Regions from separate parts of the Homo sapiens genome. Here all the other regions are linked to region 2. The links come from fine-mapping of genetic effects on gene expression. A gene starts in region 2. Each other region holds a variant in brackets. All regions are shown on one strand. Distances are between the middles of the regions. Region 1 has its middle 8.5 kb from the start of SAA1. Region 2 holds the start of HPS5 (HPS5 biogenesis of lysosomal organelles complex 2 subunit 2). Region 3 overlaps GTF2H1 (general transcription factor IIH subunit 1).

Region 1 (8,277 bases), 65 kb before region 2:
TCCTTTATAAATAAACCAGCAAATGTGTTTCCCTGAGTTATGTGAGTCACTCTAGCAAATTAATCGAACCCAAAGAGGGGGTCATGGGAACCCCAACTTGAAGCCAGTCAGTCAGAAGTTCCAGAGGCCCAGACTTGCAACTGGGGAGAAAGAGGGGGAGGTCTTGGGGACTGAGCCCCCAACCTGTGGGATCTGACACTGTCTCCAGGTAGGTAGTGTTGGAACTGCATTGGAGGACACTCCTGGTGTCTGCTGCTTGGTGTGTGGGGGGAAAAACCCACACCTTTGGTTACGGAGGTCTTCTGTGTTGACGATCATTGCTGTTTGAGGGCAGAGGGAATACACGGTTTGAGAGAGTTTTTCCCTGACATGAGCGAACAGGGGACATGTACTGGTCTCTGAGATGGGGGATCATGGGATCTGCCACAAGTGGGGAGACCACTGTGACCCCTGCCACAGTCTTTGGGGCAGAGGGTGTCTCGGGGGCAGAAGAAGCGAGAGTTGTTTGCAGTAGCAGTTATGTCCAAAGTGGGCGCCAGGAAAGTAGGGCTGCCCAGCTTTGAAGAGCCTCCTTACTCCCAGCCTGAATGAAACCATTTCCTGTAAAGCGCTAAGCATAAAGTTTGCCAATGGTGATCCACGGAGAAGTGAGTGTACCCCACCCCGCCATCCCACAGGGAATGTCGGAGTGATGTTGATCTGCACCTAGGGAAGGAATGGTTCATGAGATGTGGTGGAGATGCTGAGGGCCCGTGGACATCAGATCCTACCCTACCTGTGCCAGGACAAGCCATGCGCATGTGCTTCAGACCACCAGGCAACAGGAGTGTTGCATGAGGTGTGAAGCAGGCACCTGGGAAAGAGGAGTGTGAACAGCAGATGGGACACACTGGGGGCAGTCATAGGAATGAAATGTCCCAGGATGGATGCAGGCAGGTTATGGAGGACTTAGTGAGGACTGCTCTCCTGGTGGGAATTGTGGAGTGGGAGACTGGATGGAGACTGGAGGTGTTTTAAGTAGGGAAGCCAACTTGCAAGGGTGACCAGGGAAACTATGTCGGCCAAGGGTGAGACATGCACTGGCAAGACTCTCAGACAGCCTGGCTTATCTAAGCAGAATGCTTGAGCCATGCCAACGGTGCCTCGCAAGTTGTATTAATCATGTCCTTTCATTTTGTGTTTTTGGTGCTTGGCATCTGGGCCCTTGCTGACCCTAAGGGACCATTTCTCTCAGAGCTAGTCAAGTCCTAGACACAGTAAATGACTCTCCTGGGAGCATGCCTTCCATGTGCAGACCAACCAATCAAGAGTCCACACTCCCACCCACCTCCTTTATCGAGCTCTCACATCCTGGGGCACCATCCACCTGCCCTAATCACTCAAGGACCACGTCCCAAACAACTAGGGACAGCCTCCATGCCCCTGCACCCATTGAAATTATTCATGCTAGCCAATCCTAAACCTGTGTATGCTGCCACACCATTCCTTCCTGCAGAAACACAGTAAGGACTCTTCCTACACCTCCCCTACTTCCTCTGCTCCCTGACTTACCCACTTACTTCCTGGTGCAGTCCCCTGTGGCATAGTTCACTCTCTTCTTTTGGGAACTGTGAGGCTATCTTCTCAATGGCAGTCATCTCCTGAGCTGTTGGCCTTGCCATACCTAACTAATAATAAAATCTATATTCTAAGGTAAAAACAAAACAGATAGGGTCTCACTCTGTTGCCCAGGCTGGAGTACAGTGGTGTGATCATGACTCACTGCAGCCTCAAACTCCTGGGCTCAAGCAGTTCTCTCATCTCAACCTCCCGAGTAGCTGGGACTACAGGCACACACCACCATGCCTGGCTAGTTTTCTTATTTTTTTTGTAGATACAGGGTCTTGTTATGTTGCCAAGGCTGGTCTTGAACTCCTGGGCTCAAGTGATCCTCCTGCCTTGGCCTCCCAAACTGCTGCAATTACAGGCATGAGCCACCATGCCCAGATCAGAAATCTTACTAAAAATATTTCAAGGAGAAGAGAAAGCCAAAGATGTTGAATATATATATATGTGTGTGTGTGTGTGTGTATATATATGTATATATGTGTATATATGTGTGTATATATATATGTATATATGTATATATATATGTATATATGTATATATATATGTATATTGGGGCAGGCGTGGTGGCTCATGCCTGTGGTCCTAACTACTTGAGAGTCTGAGGTGGGAGGATTGCTTGAGCCTGGGAGATCGAGGCTGCTGTGAGCTGAGACTACACCACTGCACTCCAGCTTGGGTGACAGAGTGAGACCCTGTCTCCAAAAAAACAAAAAGAAAAAGAAAAAAAGATGGAAAAAGACATGAAAAAACAACAACAGAAATACCCACACATCATCAATGGGAGGGAAGCATCTTGAGGCAGCAAAGCGGGAGTGCTAGTAGAGAGGCAGATAGGGCGTTGGACCTGAGGCATTAAGGAAAGTCAGGATTTGGAGCTTACAAGTCTCTCATTGGAGATGGGATGGGGTTGGAATGAATGTCTGAGCAAACACAAAGCATTTCCTTCCCTAATGACTCCCCACCAGTCTAAAGAATCCCACATTAGGTCGAACACGGTGGCTCACGCCTGTAATCCCAGCACTTTGGGAGGCCAAGGCGGGTGGATCACGAGGTCAGGAGATCGAGACCATCTTGGCTAACATGGTGAAACCCCGTCTCTACTAAAAATACAAAAAAATTAGCCGGGCGTCATGGTGGGCGCCTGTAGTCCCAGCTACTCGGGAGGCTGAGGCAGGAGAATGGTGTGAACCCGGGAGGCAGAACTTGCAGTGAGCCTAGATCGCGCCACTGCACTCCAGCCTGGGGGACAAAACGAGACTCTGTCTCAAAAAAAAAAAAAAAAATTCCCACATTAGAGTTGGGGAAATGGGCAGTCCTGGTGGAAGTTAGGGAACAGATCTGGGACACGTTATAGCCAGCTGGACTACAGGAGGCCATAAGCTCAATTCTTCCTTGACTCTGAAACCTTCCACTGGTCCTAATGCCTAGTAATTCCAGGCCTTTCCCAGTTGTGCCAGGCTTGGAGGTGAACACATCTATGTGCCAAGAAGGAAAGGTATGCCAAGCAGGGGCTTAAGTCATCCTTATCCTCAGTCTGTCTATGAGTGGTATGTACCCCTGTTCCCCTTGCAAGATCTGCTGGGCTTAGGTCTCCTGGCTGTGAGTTCCCCATACCTGGGCATAAATGTAGTGAGCCTGAGCTCCCAAATAAGGTTGGGGGCTCCAGAGAGGTGGAGAGCCCTGTGTCTGGGAAGTGTGCCCACCCAGCAGGTCTGACCAGGAAGATACACTGCTAGGGTTATGGAAAAAGACTATGTGTCAAGGTCTCTTGATTCTCCATCTAGGCAGAGAATCATCTTTAATTAATGGGAAACTGGAAGGCAAATTACTTGGACCTGAAATTACTTTTTGTTTATTGAACCACTGTGTTGTAAATCACATCTCTCTGAAGGCAAGAGAAATCAGGGAGTTACAAAATGTTTAGGAGAACTAAACAGGACTCCCTGTTTTGCTAACTAATCAGATTGAGACAGGCTCTCTGGTAAATCTACAAATTTGATGTTGTTCAACCATAAGCAGTAAATTTCCTATGCTGGATTTTCCTGACAATGAATGTAAAAGGAAAAGGAGTCTTTTTGACAAAATATTTTATTGTTCATCTAAACTGAAAAACTTCTCTATTTTTCAAAATTGCTATACGTGTTTAAAGATGTAGATATTTGAATAGCCTAACTGGTACAGAAGGTTTAATGATGATTCCTAAGACATACCTATAAATTACTTGAAATTGAAACGAAATTTAAGAAGAATTATTGGAATTTTCCCCTTCTCAAATGAGTTCTTAGTTTCATAAATACTATACAAGTCCATAAGAGATTTGGGGTTTTGAGATGT[CT/C]TTTTTTTTTTTTTTTTTTCAGACGGAGTTTCACTGTTGTTGCCTAGGCTGGAGTGCAATGGCGTGACCTCAGCTCACTACAACCTCCACCTCCCAGGTTCAAGCGATTTTCCTGCCTCAGCCTCCCAAGTAGCTGGGATTACAGGGACCTGCCACAACGCCAAGCTAATGTTTTGTATTTTTAGTAGAGATGGGGTTCACCATGTTGGCCAGGCTTGTCTGGAACTCCTGACCTCAGGTGATCCACCCGCCTATAATTTATTACTCCCTTTTGCAAATGTTTGAAAAGGAATAAAGTGCAATATTTTTAAACAGAATGCAGAGTTCTGTTGTCCTTTGGCAATACCAGTTTCAGACTCTGAGAGTGGCTCTTGCTGTTGCCGACAGTGGGCTGATGACCAAATCCCAACATGCCCCCGCTGCGAGTCCTTCATAACCTGATTCAGTCATCACTTAGAGGCCAGCAGGCTTCAGGGAGGCGTGAGCCTCAGCCAACAACCTATAGGGGAAGAGACGCAGAACTCAATGCAGACAGGTTTGGATTCTGGTGCCTAGAGAATGCAACTTGGAAACTCTGAGCCAGGAGAAAAGGGTTCTCTCTCCATGAGAGAGTGTGGGCTTTGTGAGAAGCGACACACAGCAAACACAATTAAGAGTCCACCCCTCAGCGGGGCGCAGGGGCTCACGCCTGTAATCCCAGCACTTTGGGAGGCCGAGGCGGGTGGATCACGAGGTCAGGAGATCAAGACCATCCTGGCTAACACAGTGAAACCCTGTCTCTACTAAAAATACAAAAAAATTAGCCGGGCGTGGTGGCGGGCGCCTGTGGTCCCAGCTACTCGGGAGGCTGAGGCAGGAGAATGGTGTGAACCCGGGAGGTGGAGCTTGCAGTGAGCCGAGATCGCGCCACTGCACTCCAGCCTGGGCGACAGAGCGAGACTCCATCTCAAAAAAAAAAAGAAAAAGAAAAAGAAAAAGAGTCCGCCCCTGAATTAAATAGTTGGTCCTTTTGTGTTCCTGGTGATTCACTTGCTAAGTGGAAGAAACAGGAGGGAATCTTTTCTCCTGCCCTCCTGGTAATCCATAGCCCATGGCCTGGCTTTACTTCTGTAAAGTGGCAGGAGACCTTTTGACAGCTGAGCCATTTCTTATTTTATTTATTTTAATAAGAGATGGTAGGAATGAGCAATGATATTAGTACCTGGGGACTGTTGTTCTTAAGGAGAAACAATCTTAGAATGATTAGTGATACCCCTTGCTTTCTCTTTTCTTTCATTATACTTTTTGTACACATATTTTTCCCATTTATTTATTGGAATCTTACTGATTTATTATAAGTATAAGCTTTATGTCTACACATGTATAATCATTTTTCCCCAAGTATAAGTCTCTTTTTCATGGAGGCACAGCCTAGACCTGGTTAGCCGCCATCTCCCCTCATTGTATGCCCAATATCTATTGTAGTATCTGCTGCATAGAAGGCACTCGATGCGTGAATGGATAATGACTGATGATGAATCAATAAATAAATGGACATGTCATTGTAAAAAATTCTAAAAATCTAGAATAACACAAGCTGTTGGCACTACCTAGAAACACAGATGTAAAACTTCCTAGGTTGTGTTTCACCATGGGAACATGTCTTTGAACAAAAATGGGATCATATTCTATTGCACTCTTTCCCTTAAGAGATACTTCTCCAGGTCATTAAGTGCTCTTCCACAATATCAGTATATGGCAGAGGCAAGGTCATACCAGGTCTGTCTGAAACCAGGGCTTGGCTCTTAACTTGCAGCCATACTGCCTCCAAGTCTAGGTGGCTGGGTTTTAGGATCTGTAATGGGAACTCAGTGTCACAACCTCTACTGGGAAGGTATTCTGGTGTTGCATAACAGGACTTTCTGTTAGAGATAACCATGGCAAAATGGAATAGAGACAAAGTTCAGGTTTCTGCTGCCAGGAGCTGAGATTGCTGTGACCAATGGCATTCTCCCAAACCAAATAATCCAACCTGGAATTACCATAAACCACTCCTCATCTTTTCAAGGGGTGTCCAAGTTCCCAGAAAAGAACATTTGTTAAGGGATGGAGGCAAGGAGGTGGAGAAGAAAGAGCACTGGCCAAGGTATCATGAGTGTCCTGGGTTCTGGTCCTTGAATAAGCCATTTATCTTCTCTGCAGCTTCTCCATCTGATAGGAGTTTGGAGGCAGAGTTTTTTCTTAATGAGCAAAAGACAGTCGTGCCTAGGAGATGTGGTGTACATGTTAGAAAGAAGGGACTGGCTGTGACTCTATAAAAGATGAATTCATACAAAAACAAATTACCCTTTCCCAGGGAGAAAGTTTGGATCCAGTAATTAGAGATCTCAAAAAGTAGAAGACCTGCCCTGTGAGGCCTGTGGCCTCCAAGTTTGAATGCTGTGTGTCAGCTTTAAAAACTAGTTTCTTGCTGATAAATGTTTCATATTAAGCATGTGTTGAGAGTACTCCTTGCCTACCTTCACTAGCCACTGTTTCCTTCCCCTCCTCCCTTGTCCCTTCATTCTCTCCAGAACTTTCTGCTAACTTCCATTCTCTTCAGGACTTCAGCATGGTTGGGAGAAGATCAGAAAGGCATCCTCACTGTTTTTATTTTAGTCCACTTGACCTTTGGGGAGTAGTTCCACTGGCTCATAAGTATCAGCCCCCCATAGCACAGCACCCCACACTGAGCCCGGAAGCAATAAAGAATCCCAATCTGCTGTCACTAACCAGCACGCTCAACTGCCATGCCCTTTACTCTTCTCATCTCCCTGCTTTCACGTCACACCAACTAATTTCTCTATGAGTCAGCCTCAACTCTCCCAACACTCTGCCCACCCTTCTTCTACTACCTTCCAGTGAGCTCCTCGAAAGAAGGGTCTGCGGTGAGGATGCCCCTTTATCTCTGCCTATTTCCTTCCCATTACAAAAACTTGAAACCTGCCTTTCCCATGTTGATTTCACTTTATTCTCATCTTTACCCATGGGGTATGCCTCCTGCAATTCCTCCTAGACAATAGAATGAGAAAGAGGGGTCCTCGTCCTCTTTGCTTTCCATGACCATTTCTCCATTCTTCACCTCTGTGATGTGTCCTCTTTGAAGTCCCTGATAAATTCATTACCACCTTCTCTCCAGTCTTACTAATGTTATCTGCACAAGTGATTTCCAAACAGGAAGATTTTCAAACACTGATTCCTGAAGATCACCCCCAACTCGCTGAACTGAGACCAAGACCTCCAAGATTATGGCTTAGGAATCTGCATTTTTTTTTTTTTTTTGAGACAAGAGTCTCGCTCTGTTGCCAGGCTAGAGTGCAATGGTGGAATCATAGCTCATTGTAACCTCAAACTCCTGGGCTCAAGTGATCTTCCTGCCTCAGCCTCCCAAGTAGTGAGGACAACAGGAGTGTGCCACCATGCCCAGCTAATTGTTAATTTTTTGTAGAAATGGAGTCTCACTATGTTGCTCGGGCTGGTCTCAAACTCCTGACCTTAACCCATCCTCCGCCTCCGCCCCCAAAAGTGTTGGGATTACAGGTGTGAGCCACCGTGCCCAGCCTAGAAATACCCACTAGAAGCTTCTGTGTAGACAATCTGCTTAGTGATGTTTGGAGACAAAGTACCTCTTTATTGTATTCATTGACAAAACTCTCCAGTCCTCTCCCATCTTCATGGAAAATTTTCACAGTTCATTTACGGCCCTCTTTCCAACACATTCACTGCCAATACTCTTATTGACAATAACTGTATTGTTGAACCTTCCAGTATCCTGCATTCCCGGATCAAGGCCCCCTCAAAGCCCTGATATGCAAATATCTGGGAAAAGAATGTTCCAGAGGAAAGGAACAGCTAATCCGAGGCCCCTAGGGTAAGATGTGCCTGGGGGTTTGGAGACCAGTGTGGCCAGAGCAAAATGAGCAGGAGGAGAGAATTGGATGATGAGGTACGAGAGGAAGGAGTTAGGACAGTTTGAGTAAAGTTTGAAAACCATTATAAGGGCTTTGACTTCAACTATGAGTGGAAGTGGAATCCTCCGGAGAGTTTTGAATGGAGAGTGATAGAAGTTGTCTTGTGTTGTAACAGTCTGGCTGCTATACTGAAAAGAGACTAGTTGGCGGCAAAGGGGGAAATGTGGAAGCCAGTTAAGAAGCCATCATAACCCAGAAGGTGATGCCTAATAACATCTCTCTGGGAGCAGCGGAGAGATGATAAGGGTTTGCCTTCTGAATATGTTTTTTGACAATTAATGTAAACATTTCAAGTAGGCTGAGATTTTATTGCATATTAACAATGTCCATGTTCACTCGCGGCAG
Region 2 (8,277 bases):
GTAAACAGAATAGGTAGAGTAGGATTTAGGAAAATTGGCATATCACCCTGAGTTAAAACAGCAACCTTGCTGCTGCATTTCTATGAATACTAAATCTTCTGTCTTTAGGAGTCTCTCATTAAAACGCAATCTTCTGTAAAGGCCTCAACTTATTAACTGTTATCAGCAAACCCTACAGTTATCAGCTAACAATTTAACAGTGGTTTATAGGAATAGGCCACTAGACTTCTCTCTTCAACCGAGCAGGGGCTTAGTAAGTATGGTGAATGAATGAACAGATCTACTAAGTGAGAAGGTACAGGGAATTAGAGCACAAAGAAAAATAAGCGCTTCAACAAAAGAGACTAGATAGGACAGAATACGGATAAGAATACAAGGTAACAAATGCCAAATAACCAGTGAGGACTTTGTAAAGTAACACGAAAGTTTTTATGTGTTCACCTACTCTCAAATGCACTTTTTTGTCAACTTGCACCAATCTCCAGAAAAAAAGAAAAGAAAATTCTACTCATTAATTATAACTTTTCTCAATCACTTGTTACCTGCCAAATTTAGAAAGCCAATGAATACAACAGAAAAAGTCATGAACTGTTTATACATTCTTGTTGTTTGTTCATGCTTTACGTTTTTGACTTTTTTTCCAGAAACATATATATTCCATCACTCATTTATTCAACAAATTTGTACTGAGCACCCACCTACGTGCCAGACATTATTCTAGGTCCTGGAGATGATAAAGTTCTAACCCTCATAGAGCATACTTTCTAGTGGCAAAACGAAGACTATATTTTTTATTGCACACACATAACACAATCTTATTTTCTGCTAGTAACACTGTTCCTAATACACCTTGACCTCTGCAAGGAGAATGTTCAGGAAAAAAAAAAAGAAAAAACCCAGAAAGAAACTTTCACATGCCTGTACTCAAAATATTTGAGAATTATTGACCTAAGAAAATCTTCCCTCATTGTTTTCACTCATTCATTTCATTGAGTACCTAGTAAAGTACCAGGCACAGTGGTAAAAATAAGACAAGTAAAATAATTCCAGAAGTCAGTCAGTTTATAATACGGAGGAAAAGACAAATACCACACACACACACACACACACACACACACACACACACACATCTTATAAGGGAAACATAAGCAAACTGCTTTGTTAGAACTTTACAGGACAGAGGGATCACATTGAATTAAAGGGAACTGAAGAAAACGCTCTAAGGAAAGTAGTACTGATGCTGACTAGGCTTTTATCTCAAGGAAAAGGGAAAGGGTAGCAGGTAGGGTAGCAATAAGCAAATATATAGAGAAGAAAAAAATGCAGAATATACTAGAAGAATACAAATTTAGTCTTTGGTTGAAACAGGATACAAGCAACGGAATAATGAAAGATAAAGCTGGAATCTTAATTTGGGCCCAAGTTACAAAACACTTTGAATTTCAAACCAAAGAACCTGAACTTAACTTGGCAGGCAACAGAAAGGAATTGAAGAATTGTGTGTTGGGAGGTCACACAATTTCTGTAAAGTGCTGTGGGTGGTTAGATGCTAGAAAACAAAGACTTGAGAAAACGGGTGGGTGATATGAAAATGAGGATAAAACATTTCAATTACTCAAGAAGTCTGGTGGAAAAGGAGAAAACCTCTCTTGACGTTATTATTGGGGAGACTCTTCAACAGATTTGTAGGTAGTAGCTAAAAGTAGAGTCTAGAACGAAAGGGACTGAAGATTCAAGAAAAAGATAAAACCATGGTACAGGATCCAAGAGATGGAAAGGAATGATAATATCATAGTGTCTCTTCTACTTGTGATCTTGAAACAAAGAAACTCTGAGTAGGTCATTTTGCCTTAATCTCGGTAAAAAGAGAATGTCCTGGAAGTTATAATATAATGCGGGGGTGTGCAGGGGGACACACCTAGTAAGTTCTACTGAAAAGAAAAAAAGAATTTAACAGAAATGAGAATGGAAAATAAAAACAGCATAAGCAATGCCAATTCTCAGAGAAGCTGCTGAATGACAGTGTTAAACCAACTTCAACTTTATACTTTATGTTTACTCTCCCTGAAATGACTGCTTCCCTTCCAGATTTTCTTATCCAAACATACCCAGCTTTCAAGATCGCACATGAGCCCTACTTCCTAGAATTCTCAAGATGGAAAAAGATTCATAGGTAATTCAGTGAACATGTCCACCTAATTCAGAAATTAGTTTTGCCCTAGATCCCTGAACATTTTCAGCCATGGAAAGAAAGCACTCACTCTCATGAAGCTGCCAATTCCAGTCCTCCAAAGGGCTCACTATTATAAGGTTCTTTTTAATACTATGCTGAAGCCTGATCACTTAGAGCTCTACCATTATTCCTAATTGTATGTAGCTTCTACAGCTGAAGGGAACAAGCTGTCTCTTTCCAAAACAATCCTTCTGTATTTGAAAAGCATTATCAGGTCTTCTAAAAATTTAACATTCCCAGTTTCTTCATCACTCCTGACATGACATTTTCCAACCCTCTGTTCCAGTCAACCTTCTACAGAGGCACTGTAGTTTGCCTAAAAATGAGGTGCCTAGAACTGAGCATAATACTCCTTAAGTAGTTAGATGAGCCCAGAATAGAGTAGAAACACTAACTTCCTGGATCTAGACACTAAGTTTCTATATTACAACCTAAAAACAGTATTAGTTGTGTTTAAGTGGCCATGTTACACATTGATTCAACAGAGCAAGTGGTCAACTAAAACCCAAAGAAATTGTTTACATAAATAAAATCTTCTTAGCCAGTAGCTACATACAGTAGAACTGAGCTCAAATTGAAAGCTGCTATTAATCAAATGCAACAATGGATATAAAAAGTACCTAGAAATGTACAAACAGTATAAAGAGGAACAGCAGAATGCTGATAATTGTTCAAGTTGCGTTAAGTGTACATGAGGGTTCAATTTATTATCCTACTTTTGTCTGCGTTTGAAATTTTCCACAATAAAATTTAAAAAATATATACATAATATTGTACAAGCCTTCAACAGCTCTATTTCTTGAAAATCTGTTATCTCCTCCCTGCTTCTTTTTCCAGCCTTATTTCCCATCTTAACCTCTCTATTCTCCAACTACATTGGACTCGACTCTTTTTTTCTTTTTCATTCCATAAACTTGCTGTGCCTCCATGGTTTAATATATGATGTTTATGGAATCTTCCCCCATTTACCAAAACCCTACCTTTCTGCAAAGCTGAGTTTAAATGTTACTTCTGTGAAGGCACTCTACCAAAAACTAAGAACATAGAAGTTGGCGACAAATGCTTAACCAAAGTAAATGAAACAACTTTTGGGAGACTGGCTTGCCCAAGGATCACAGAGTTCATAAATGGTAGAGCTGAGATTAGAATACGCGTCTCCTGAATCCAAATCTCATCTTTCCATTATCGTAAAATAGTTCAGTGTTTGTTGCTCACACATCAAATGCAAACATGTTTCTCTTTTGCCCCAGTAGGTGCGTGGAGGAAGAGGAGAAAGAAGTAAGAAAGATAGCAAAAATTGAAGAAATGAGAAGGGGAAGTTGCAGACTGCCTCATTTTCACAATGGGATCTTTCTATCCAAGAAGAAATGATCAGAAAACAACTCTCTGCCTCAGACAAATGGCGACTGACTCATTTATACATTCATTCATTCAACATTCTGAGTGCCTACTATGTTCCAGGACCTGAACACACCGCTAGAGACACAGGGATGAACAAAACACAATCCCTACCCACAAAAAGCTCCTTGCCTAGTGGAACTACTACCTTTTTAACAGCAGTAACTTTAATATCTTGAGATTTCTTGAGAGGAGACCCAGTAACCAATTTTCAAAGCCAGGCTCACAGACCAGCAGCCCGGAGGTCCCAGCCCAGCTCCACCACATCCAGGGCAGTACCTCGCAGCTCTCAGTAGATCGGATCTTGTCTCCCGGCTTAGCGCCGGGGAACTCACCGCGCACTAAGAGCGGAACGTGAACTTCAGTCTCCCCTCGCGTTCCTCCCCTTCCTTGCTGACGTCATCCAGGAGAGCCGCAGACTGGAAACAACGCTACTAACGGCACTTCCTCATCACGTGACGAGTCACGCCCCTCCTTCCGCGTGGTCCCTCCCCCTCAGGCCGCGGTCGCGATTACGCTCTCTACGGCCTGCGACCGCAGGGCCGTTGCGGGCTGGAGACACGGCGCCGACTGGAACCGGAGGAGCTCTAGGCCAAATGGTTGGGCCAGCCAGGATCCCAGGACCCTTCGCCGCTCGAGACCGGAGAGAGGAAACGAAACAGGCGGGAACCCGTGGGGGAGGGAGGGAACTAGCGGAAGGTGTCATGGCGGCCGCGCTCTTGAGTCACGTGCCCAGGGCCCGCCTTGCTACTTCCGGTCACGTGCCCTCAGACTCCTCGCAGCCAGCGATGGAGGCGAGACCCCCTAGTAACAGAGGCGGTGGCTACTGCTGCGGCCACTGGGTTTCGGCCTCTTCCCAGCAGCGGCTCTAAGAAGCGCAGCGGAACTCGACCGGATCCAACCCAGTTAGTTACTTCCTGTCTAGAGTTGTAGCTTCCACCTGGTAAGTTTAGACCGAAGAATGCAGGCGGGCGGGTGGGTGGGCGGGTGAGGAGCTGACAGGCCTGGGGGCCGCTGGACGGCGTGGATTCTACCCCTGTTCCCAGCGTCGCTGTCGCCGTCCTCCCAACGCCCAAGCCTGGCGTCTTGTTTGCCCTTATCCCGAGGCGAGGAAGAGGCGACCCCTAATCTACTTGTCTAAAGGAAACCTGCTCTTAAATTGAGAGCAGGTTTACCCAAAGCCAGGATCAGATTTGGCTTATGAGAATGAAGTGGAGGCCTCTCCCAGACAGAGAAGCCCTTCCCGTCAGGAAATGTGCTGTTGAGTCTGGGATTCTGTAAGAGAAAAGCTGTCACCTTGTTGTCTGCACACCTTTTGCTTCCACCTGTCAATCTTACCTCTCTTAAAAACCTTAACACGTGCCAGTCCACACACTCCTAGTTTTGGTCATTTGATTGTCGTGTAATGATGAAAAATAGACCATGAGTACCTGGATATATGTAATTATTTTGTAAATCCCCCAGTGTTCTCAAAGGCCAAATTAAATAAGGAGGTGACTTTTCTTATTTTTTTTTAAGAGACAGAGTCTTGTTCTGTCGTCCTGGCTGGAATGCAGTGGCGTGATAATAGCTCACTGTAACCTCGAATTCCTGGGCTCAAGCGATTCTCCTGCCTAGACCTCCCAAAGCGCCAGAATTATGCTACAGTGCCTGGCCCCAAATGACTCCTAAACTCCAATTTTAGCATCAGTAAAATGGGGATGGGGAAAGAAGATATGAAAAATACACCCTTTGTCCATTTGAAGACCCAGTCTTAAAAACAAAAACAAAAAAAAAACTGAGTGGTTTGAATGAAATGTGCTTTGCAGTGAGTATTGACTCCATACAAACCAATATCCAGACTTGTGATTTTCAAACATTTTAAAGGAGTGGAACAATTTCTCCCCATGAATTTTTATCTGGAACCCAATATATAAAGCAGCATGCTCTGGTGGAACTAAATTTAAAAGGGCCAGGCCCCACCACCCCACTTAACTTCTATCCTAGAGGCCACTCCTTGGAACACAGTTTGAAAACCACTGAACTGGACTTAGGTAATTAAGCCAAAGTTGCCAACCTTAAGATTTTTTAAAAGACAAAACCAGAGCAGTTGAGATGGAGAGGTCACAACCGCAGGGAAGGTAACCTCTAGTAGCAGGCCTTGGACTTAGAGAAGGACTAAACTCTGGAGAGAACTTTGTACCTGTTAGCAGGCTTAAGTCCCTCATTCAGAAAGGAGAAAAAAGAGATGGTCTGCTATCCTCACTCAGCCGACATTTTTTTTTTTTTTTGAGACGGAGTTTTGCTCTTGTTGCCCAGGCTGGAGTGCAATGGCGCGATCTCTGCTCACTGCAACCTCCATCTACCGGGTTCAAGGGCTTCTCCTGCCTCAGCCTCCCCAGCGGCTGGGATCACAGGCGCACGCCACCATGCCTGGCTAATTTTTGTATTTTTGGTAGAGACGGGGTTTCACCATGTTGACCAGGCCATTCAGCCGACTTGTAGCAGTGCAACAGATTGGTAAGTTTGAGTCTCTCTTAGGTGATATAAAATACACATTGCAGTACAAATGTGAAAAAAAATCAAAGCAAATTCAGAGAGGGCTTTTGAAAAATACTAGGAAACTTGGTGCAGTGTGGGAGAAGAATCAGTTAAAAGTAGTGAAGCCAGCGACCAGCACCAGTCCTGGGTTGTGAATGCTTCCTGTGTGTACTGCCCTCAAGGCTTGTAACTTCTCCCTGCTGGTACCATGTGTCCTGCCCTCTGATAACCTGCTTCTCTGTGCTATTTTATTCCCTACCATCAGAATGTTGTCTGGCATACCTTGAGCTTTCCTAGCATTTTGGCCACCATTTATCTCTGCCTTATGCATACTGCTGATAGAGATGTCTTTGTGCCCTTCCTTTCTCTTTCCTGCCTTCAGTGTGGCAGTATCAGCCATTGACCTAGTAGTTCCTCTTTTCACCACTTTGATTACCAACTGATTACTCTTCTCTCAATTTTGGTAATATACTCTTGTCAGCATGCAGTATTTATTAATGGATATGAGCATATTTTCTTCTGTCATGCATCTCTGTCGCATTTTCCTCCTGCCTCTTCCCTGCACTGCTGTAAAATGTACAAGTGCTCAGTCCTAAAATTGCCACATCAGTTATTCTCCTTAATATCTTCCTTGTCTGTGAAATTATCCTTAAAACAGTACATTTTGGTCACTCTTTACATACTTATAAAGTTATTCCCTTTAATGCTGAATTGTTCAAACACTTTTGGATTGCTTGATGGCAAGCAGCATTCCAAATCTCCATTTTTGTATGCTGGCAGATATAACAGTGCTCTCTAGTAATCCTTCTTTCAGAAGATTTCTCTTTCACTTGTTGCTCCCTATCTCCTCTCCTCCATTTATCTCTTGCACATTGGAAAAGGGGATGTAGGTAATGGAAATGCAGAGGTGCAGTAATGTAAAGATTTGTATTCAACCAGTTCATATTCTTCCTTATCACTGTTGCCTTTTAAGAGCAAGATCCAGTTATTAGAATCTGTATGAGAAATGGTACATTGATCTGTGAATTGAAAACTATAGTGGTTCCCGGAGTTTAGGCAAAGATGTATATGCAAAGATTCCTTATTATGTCTTAGCAAGAGATTGTATTCTTTTAACAGCAAGATCTTAAATGATGTCATTGATACTTCTTGGACTCTTCTTATAGGCCAAACACTATATTACTGGGTGCTATATTACAGAGAACCCGACATATATGGCCTCTGCCCTCCCTTATGAAGCTTGCAATCTGTCAGGAGACGTGTACATTAAAAGAATCACATTAAAAATTATGTTGTTGTAAGTGCCATGAAGAAAATAATAGGAGACTTTAGCTGGTAACTTTGAAGCTTAACATAGACTGAAAAAAAAAATGAGTGAAAGTTAGCCAGTTGATGGGAAAGGAAGAGAATGTACAAAGGCTCAGAGCAAGGTATATGAATTTAGATTCGGACAAATACATTTTTAACTGCAAATAAATTAATGCCTTTAATATAGATCTTGCTATTTAAGGAAGTCTTAGACCATTTCATAAGTAAATAGTCTTTTAGTAAAGCGAGATCTTCATTGACCTGATCTGTTTAAATGTAGCCTACACCAATAACTTTCATAAATTTCTATGGCTCTTATAGAGTTCTCCTGGGAAGAAGTGTTTGCCACTCAAGGAATACACTCAAGAAAAACCTGGAAATCACAGAAGGCATTGTAAGATAGCTACAGTGATTCTGTTAAACCTCCTGAAATTGGTCCTTGAACAATTAAGAGGTGCTACAGATGACCAGGAAAATTTACCAGGCAAATTAGCTGTGAGACAATTGACCATTTGTGCCCAATGTTCGGTAATTTATCTCAGATTTATTTTTTAAATTTCCCCATAAATGAATTTTGATATAAATGGTTTTATATGTTATATATAAGAGGTTATGGCTGGGCGTGGTGGCTCACGCCTGTAATCCCAGCACTTTGGGAGGCTGAGGCAGGCAGATCACCCGAGGTCAGGAGTTTGAGACCAGCCTGGCCAACATGGCGAAACCCCATCTCTACCAAATGTAGAAAAATTAGCGAGGTGTGGTGGTGCGTGCCTGTAATCCCACCTATTTGGGAGGCTGAGGCAAGGGAATCGCTTGAA
Region 3 (8,000 bases), 36 kb after region 2:
ATATCAGGAGGCAAATGATTTGTATATATCCTAGCTTGTGATATTAAATTTTTTCACTTGGTTAAAGGTAGTATTTGCCTGGTTTCTCCACCAAAAAGTTAACTATTTTTCCCTTTGTAATTAATACATATCTTGTGGAGCTGTACTTTGAGACTATATAAATACCCCATTTGTCACCAAATTTTTTATTTTTATTTTTTAATATTATTATCTTTAGAGACAGGGTCTTGCTCTGATGCCCAGGCTGTAGTGCAGTGGCACAGTCATAGCTCCGTTCAACCTCAGACTCCTAGACTCAAGCAATCCTCCTGCCTCAGCCTTCTGAGTAGCTGGGATTATAGGCATGTGTCACCACACAACAAACTTACATCTGGTAGTTTTTTTAGAATCACTGATGATTCTTGCCTGGAAGAGCAGTTGTTAAATGATGATTTTCTAATTCCATCAGCCCTTCTATGTATATCAGCTGACATGAAAGGAAGAGCATTCCCTTCTCCTCTGTTTGTTATTTATATCAGCATGGATTCATTTATGAGTTAAACACTGTTGCTATCTTTTTTTCTTTGTTTCTTTTTGTTTTTGTTTTTGTTTTTGAGATGGGGTCTCACTCTGTCACCCAGGCTGAAGTGCAGTGGCATGATCTCGGCCCACTGCAACCTCCACCTCCCTGGCTCAAGCGATCCTCCCACCTCAGCCCCCCAAGTAGCTGAAACCACAGGCACTCACCACCATGCCTGGCAAAGTTTTTGTATTTTTGGTAGAGACAGGGTTTTGCCATGTTGCCCAGGCTGGTCTTTAACTCCTGAGCTCAAGCAATCCACTCGCCTCGGCCTCCCAAAGTGCTGAGATTACAGGCCGTTTTTTTCTTTTTCCTTTTTTTTAAAATTTTTTTAATTTTTCTTTATTTTTTTTTTATTTTTATTTTGTGAGACGGAGTCTTGCTCTGTTGCCCAGGCTGGAGTGCAGTGGCATGATCCCCACTCACTGCAAGCTCCGCCTCCCAGGTTCACGCCATTCTCCTGCCTCAGCCTCTGGAGTAGCTGGGACTATAGGCGCCCGCCACCACGCCTGGCTAATTTTTTTGTATTTTTAGTAGCAACGGGGTTTCACCGTGTTAGCCAGGATGGTCTCGATCTCCTGACCTCGTGATCCACCCGCCTCAGCCTCCCAAAGTGCTGGGATTACAGGCGTGAGCCACCACGCCCAGCCTTTTTTCTTTTTATTAACCAAGGTACAACTTAACATACAGTAAAATAAATAAATAAATTTACTTATTTATTTATTTATTTCGAGACAGGGTCTCACTTTGTCCCCCAGGCTGGAGTGTAGTGGCACAATCTCGGCTCACTGCAGCCTTGACTTCCCAGGTTCAAGCAATCCTCTCACCTCAGCCCTCCAAGTAACTAAGTAGCTGGGACTCCAGGCATGTGTCACCATCCCTGGCTAATTTTTATATTTTTGTGTGTAGACAGGGTTTCACCACGTTGCCCAGGCTGGTCTCGAACTCCTGAGCTCAAGCGATCCACCTGCCTCAGCCTCCCAAAATGAAATTTATCTTTTTAAGTCTGCTATTCTACAAGTTTTGATAAACACATGCTGTTGTGTAGCCACCAACAAAATCAAGATTTTAAAAAACCGGTTCTGTCACCCCAGAAAGTCTACCCATGCCCCTTTACAGTCAAACCCTTCCTACCCACTTCACACAGGCTCTCCTGTGTCTTTCTGACAATATCCCCGTCATTCTTAGCCCCTCCTTACTGAATGGTATAGTAAGATAGATGTTCCAGGCTTATCTTACATCTGCCCTGTCCCAGGCGTGGAATTTTCTTTTTAGCACTGAGTGGATCAAGGTAGGAACCAAGATCTGGGACCGGGCACAGTGACTCACACCTATAGTCCCAGCACTTTGGGAGGCCGAGGCACGCAGATCACTTGAGAGCTCTAGACCACCCTGGCCAACATGGCAAAACCCCGTCTCTACCAAAAATACAAAAATTAACTGGGTATGGTGGTGCGTACCTGTAGTCTCAGCTACTCGGGAGGCTGAGGCAGAAGAATTGCTTGAGCCTGGGAGGCGGAGGTTGCAGTGAGCCGAGATCGCACCACTGCACTCCAGCCTGGGCAATAGAGTGAGACTCTGTCTCAAAAAAAAAAAAAAAAAAAAATCTGGGCACTAGGTATACATTGGGGTGTCATTGTCCCTTCAGCAGAAAGCTAGAAAATACATATGTGTACATAAATGCACACATAACCAACCTGGGATTATTTGACCAATTCTTTCAATGTAGACTATAGTTGTCCAGTATCTGGCCCTTGGGCCCGAGTAGACCCACATAACTTTTGTCTTGGGGGTGGTGGTGTTTGTTTGATTTAGAGGTGAGGTTTCTGTCACCCAGACTGGAGTGCAGTAGCACTATCATAGCTTACTGCAACCTTGAACTCCTGGGCTCAGGCGATGCTCCCACCTCAGCCTCCTGAGTCACTAGGATTATAATTGTAAGCCACCATGCCCAGCTCTCCCCATGTAATTTTTTTACACTGTAGTCAATCTTTGTTTTTTTTTTTTTTTTTTTGCAGTCAGGGTCTTGCTTTGTTGCCCAGGCTGGAGTGCAGTGACACCATCTCAGCTCACTGCAGCCTCAACTTCCCCAGGCTCAAATGATCTTCTCATCTCAGCCTCCCAAGTAGCTAGGACTACAGGCATGCACCACCATGCCCAACTAATTTTTTTGTATTTTTTGTAGAGACAGGGTTTCACCATATTGCCCAGGCTGGTATCTGACAAAAGGAAAATAGGAATAAAGTGAGCTCCAATGTCCCCTTCACTCATGGTTGTCCCATACTGTACTTTTACACTAAGTTGAAAAAATGTTTTCATCCAATCTATACATGGATGGATTTCTACTCATAAAAACTTCATTGGAAAATCTTAGAGATGCTAACCCTGCACTTGCTGTTTCACAAATTATTTGTTCCTCCCTATAGCAGTGCCTCCCTACAGTACCTGGCACTTGATAGGCACTCATCGAATAGATAGGTCAATTTTTTCCTAAATGTTGATGTTGATACAGTGGGGAGTATATTTTTCCCCCTTTTGGCTATATTTATTCACTTCCTTGAAAATTAAATGACAGTTAATAAATTTCTGCTCTTTATTTTTTTTTCCCCCACTCTGTTATCAAGGGTATATGTTAGCAAAGCCAGGTGCGGAGTACACACCTGTAGTCTGTCCCAGCTACTCAGGAGGCTGAGGGAGGAGGATTGCTTGAGCCCAGGAGTTCAAGTTCAGCCTGGGCAACATAACAAGATTTTGTTTCTTAGAAAAATAAATTTAACAGAAACAAAGGATACAGGTTAACATGTTGTTTTACCTGTTTTCTTTCCTTAAACTCAATTTTACCTTCAGTGGTAAGAGTTCTCATATTAAATTGAATTGGTACTTAAGAAAGGGCTTTAACTAGGCAAAACCTTGGGAGTTTTGAGGTCCCTGTGGACTTGCCTGGCATGCCTGGGAGATTTGTAGGTATCTTCTTTCTACACGGATTGTGTTTCTGCCCTCAAGGAAAATAGTTCACTTTGACCACTGTAAATGATGTAGTATTTAAACAAAAG[GA/G]AAAGCACTTCATTGTCTGCTCTAAAACTAAAATGTTAAGAAAGAGAGGTGGCAAAAAAAAAAAAGGGAGGAAAACCAGTTTTAATGCATCTTCATTTTTTTCAGGTTCTCTCAAGTAGTGCTGCCAGTAGTACCATCACAGCACTGTCACCTGGAGGGGCACTTATGCAGGGAGGAACACAGCAAGCCATAAACCGTATGTGCCGGGCCATCTTCTACTACTTTCTGCCTAAATCAGCTTTAAAAAGCAAGCTGGGAGGAGTGCTGAACTTTTATTGGTTTTTCCTTGGAATAATCCTGGGATTTCTATTTTGTAGATTTGTTTTTATACATTCAGATTCTGAAACACATCTAGACAAGATCTTAGGTTTCAGAACCGTCTTACTATTACAAATAGTGGTACATTGCTAGTTTCTCTAATATCATAGTAAAAGCTCCTTTCTTCTCCCCTACCTCTTAGAATAAAGGGGAAACCTGAAAGTTTCTTTGAAATCCCAAGAGCTTTTAAATTTTATGATCTCTCAGCCACAAAATTACTAACTTATCTGAAAATAGCACATCCTGGTTTGGCATTGACAAAGAGTACACATTCAAATTTATTCTCTGAGTGGTCATTTTTTTCGAGACTGTATATGTTAAAATAGCTCTTAACCTATGGGCCTTGTTCTTCTTTTGCAGAGATGGTGCCAAATGATATTCAATCTGAATTGAAACACTTATATGTAGCTGTTGGAGAACTTCTACGACATTTCTGGTCCTGCTTTCCTGTTAATACGCCATTCCTAGAAGAAAAGGTTAGAACCAGTTCTGAAGACAGCCAGATAATTGTGGTAGTGACTTACAAGAAGTTTTGAAATTGGAAAGTTTTATTGAGTCTTACCATGTGACAGACACTGGGATAACTCTTTTGCATACATCGTTTCATGTAAACCTCACAGCATCTTTATGGAGTAGCTATTGGTACCCATTTTATAGATTTGGAAACTGAGATCCAGACGAGTTCCATAACTAATAATCATACAACTTAAAACTTGTATCTACCTCCAAGCCACTGTGAATAGAGACCCAAAACAAATTACATCAATAAAGTTATTTATATTTGATACGTTTTTCAGGGATAACAAAATCCAAAATAAGAACTGACAACAAATATAGCACTAGCTTTTTAACACTAAAACCGCTTTAACCAATTAAAGGACAGTTGACAAATGAAAAATGTAACATTAATAGTAATACTATAAATTGCTTTCATAAACTATGATTAAGTAAAAGATAAAGACCTCATTAAGCACAATAGGCAAACACTTTACAAGCAACTCACTAAAGAATGGAGTGGCCTAGGAAGATTAAGGGGAAATGCTCACACTTACCAGTATGCAGATAAATTACAGCTACAGTAAAAGAACATTTTGGCCAAGCACGGTGGCTCACACCTGTAATCCCAACACTTTGGCGGGGCTGAGGCGGGAGAATTGTTTGAGCCCAGGAGTTGGAGACCAGCCTGGACAACATAGCAAGACTCTGTCTCCAAAAAATACATAAATAAATTTTTTAAAAGAATATTTTTTTCACCTACTAATTTGCAGAAGAACAAAAATCTTAAAATGATCAATGTTGACCAAGTAGCCAAGAGTCCTTTCTTCCACTGCTAGTGTTTTTTTAGATGCTTTTACTTCAGCATTCAAATGAAACTTCAAATGAAATTCAACATTTAGAAATTTAGGAAATAATTAGGAATGCAAATACTTAGCTAGAGATGGTCTACCACTCTCTAAGATAGAGGAAATGGCCTAAATATCTACCAGAAGGGGGTTGGTTAGAGAAGCATTTGGTATATTCATACGTTGAAAGACAATAATTATTTTATTTTATTTTATTTATTGAGTCAGGGTCTCACGCTGTCACCCAGGCTGGAGTGCAGTGGAGTGATCTCTGCTCACTGCAGCCGCTACCTTCTGGGCTGAGGTGATTCTCCCACCTCAGCCTCTCTAGTAGCTGGGACTACAGGCATGAGCCACTAAACCGGGCACTTTGGGAGGCCAAGGCAGGCAGATCGCTTGAGCTCAGGAGTTTGAGACCAACTTGGGCAACATGGCAGAACTCCGTCTCTACAAAAATTATGAAAAGTAGCTCAGGTGATCACCTGAGCCTAGAGAGGTCAAAGCTGCAGTGAGCCATGATGTTGCCACTGCACTCCAGCCTGGGTGACAGAATGAGACCCTGTCTCTAAATGAATGAATAAATGAATGAGTGACTATTTAAATGAGTTGGGATTTTTTGTTGTTTTTGTTTTTTGAGATGGAGTCTCACTCTGTCGGCAGGCTGGAGTGCAGTGGTGTGATCTCAGTTCACTGCAGCCTCCACCTCCTGGGTTCAACCAATTTTCCTGCCTCAGCCTCCTGAGTAGCTGGGACTACAGGCGTGTGCCACCACGCCCAGCTAATTTTTGTATTTTTAGCGGAGACGGGGTTTCACCATGTTAGCCAGGATGGTCTCAATCTCTTGTCCTTGTGTTCCGCCCACCTCGGCCTCCCAAAGTGCTGGGATTACAGGCGTGAGCCACCACGTCTGGCCAAATGAGTATTTATGACTGAAAGATATTCACATTGAAGGGTTAACAATGTGATATAATTGGTATATTTTTATTTTATTTTTACATTTAAAAAAATTCTACAAGAAAAGTAACTTTCATATGTAGAAGATTGTTTTTCTGTTGGTCTCTACAGCTTGAGATTTCTCTGTAATTTATTGTTTCTCATCTTTTTTAGGTAGTGAAAATGAAAAGTAATTTGGAACGATTCCAAGTTACGAAGCTCTGTCCATTCCAAGAAAAGATTCGGAGACAGTATTTAAGCACAAATGTAAGGCAGCAATCTGATTTTTGCCTGATCTTCTTTCTCTTTGTAGTAAAATGATGAAATTGATTTTGCTTTCATGTAAATGAGTAGATACTTAATTTTCTTTTTTTTTTTTTTTTGAAACGGAGTCTCACTCTGTCGCCCAGGCTGGAGTACAGTGGCTCCATCTCAGCTCACTGCAACCTCTACCTCCTGGGTTCAAGCGATTCTCCTGCCTCAGCCTTCTGAGTAGCTGAGATTACAAGCGCATGCTGCCACGCCCAGCTAATTTTTGTATTTTAGTAGAGACGGGGTTTCACCATGTTGGCCAGGCTGGTCTCAAACTCGACCTCAGGTAATCAGCCCACCTTGGCCTCCCAAAGTGCTAGGATTACAGGCATGAGCCACTGCACCCGGCCAATACTTTATTTTCTGTTGCTCAAAGTACTGTTTTTTAATATTGAAATGTGTCATGCATTCAGAAGTATATAAAATACATACATATTTTTTAAATAATAAAATAACTGTCTGTTTACTCACCAATCAGGAAAATTAGTAGAATGTTGCCATAACCCATAGATATTCCCTGAGTGCCCCTGTCCAGTTGCATACCACTCTCTCTTCCCCTCCAGAGGTCATGACTAACCAAAGCATTTGTGATAACCATCTCCATGCTTTCCCTTAGAAAAGTTTTACAATCTGGCCGGGTGCGGTGGCTCATGCCTGTAATCCCAGCACATTGAGAGGCCAAGGCAGGCTGATCACTTGAGGTCAGGAGTTCCGAGACCAGTTCTGGCCAACATGGCGAAACCCTGTCTCTACTAAAAATACAAAAATTAGCCTGGCATGGTGGCGCATGCCTGTAGTCCCAGCTACTCGGGAGGCTGAGACAGGAGAATTGCTTGAACCTGGGAGACAGGGGTTGCGGTGAGCCGAGGTCATGCCACCGCACTCCAGCCTGGGTGACACAGTGAGACTCTGTCTCAAAAAGTTTTACAATCTATGTGTATGTTCTGAAAAATACATATTACTAATTTATTAATTTGGAAAAACTGAGTAGCAAGCACAAACCTAGCAGCGTAAGGAAAGATAGAATTGCCACTACTCATAGTAAGCAAAACTGTTCCTGGGTTCTATTTGGCATCAGCTTCCCTGATTGTTTACAGTGGGGAAAGTCAGTGGATGAGGTATTGAGAAGTGTCACTTTATGCCCAGCATTTTTAGCATTGTATTTAAAACAAGGTTAGAGCAACCACATCAGATCATTTGTATGTGCAGTTATACAAGCCCTCCCAGAGGTACCTTGGAAAGAATAGTACAGTCACGTGTTGCTTAACCACAGGGATGTGTTCTAAACAATTCATTGACAGACAGTTTTGTTGTATGAACCTCACAGAGTGTACTTAAAACCTAGCTATATAGCCTACTATACTTCTAGGCTATATGGTGTAGCCTGTTGCTCCTAGGCTACAAACCTGTACAGCATAGTACTGTACTAAATACTGTAAACAGTTTTAACACAATGGTATGTGTGTATCTAAACATAGAAA

What was found. PIP is the estimated chance that this variant, and not a neighbour inherited with it, causes the effect.
Region 1: its variant is fine-mapped to the expression of HPS5 in skeletal muscle (FUSION, PIP 0.95).
Region 3: its variant is fine-mapped to the expression of HPS5 in whole blood (TOPMed, PIP above 0.99).

What each region holds. Positions count from the first base shown.
Region 1 is chr11:18,253,618-18,261,894 of GRCh38, forward strand. It overlaps the pseudogene ST13P5. Among named protein-coding and RNA genes, the nearest start is that of SAA1, 8.5 kb to the right of the region's middle. The variant CT/C (reference allele first, on the strand shown) is at 3,943.
Region 2 is chr11:18,318,167-18,326,443 of GRCh38, forward strand. HPS5 (HPS5 biogenesis of lysosomal organelles complex 2 subunit 2) reads right to left here and starts at 3,974. Exons shown (of 23, transcript NM_181507.2): 1 at 3,780-3,974. GTF2H1 (general transcription factor IIH subunit 1) reads left to right here and starts at 4,401. Exons shown (of 15, transcript NM_005316.4): 1 at 4,401-4,574. RefSeq lists enhancers at 3,472-4,421, 3,559-4,758, 3,649-3,948, 3,959-4,378.
Region 3 is chr11:18,354,234-18,362,233 of GRCh38, forward strand. It overlaps GTF2H1 (general transcription factor IIH subunit 1), which reads left to right. Exons shown (of 15, transcript NM_005316.4): 12 at 3,719-3,809; 13 at 4,292-4,407; 14 at 6,382-6,474. Among named protein-coding and RNA genes, the nearest start is that of MIR3159, 30 kb to the right of the region's middle. The variant GA/G (reference allele first, on the strand shown) is at 3,613.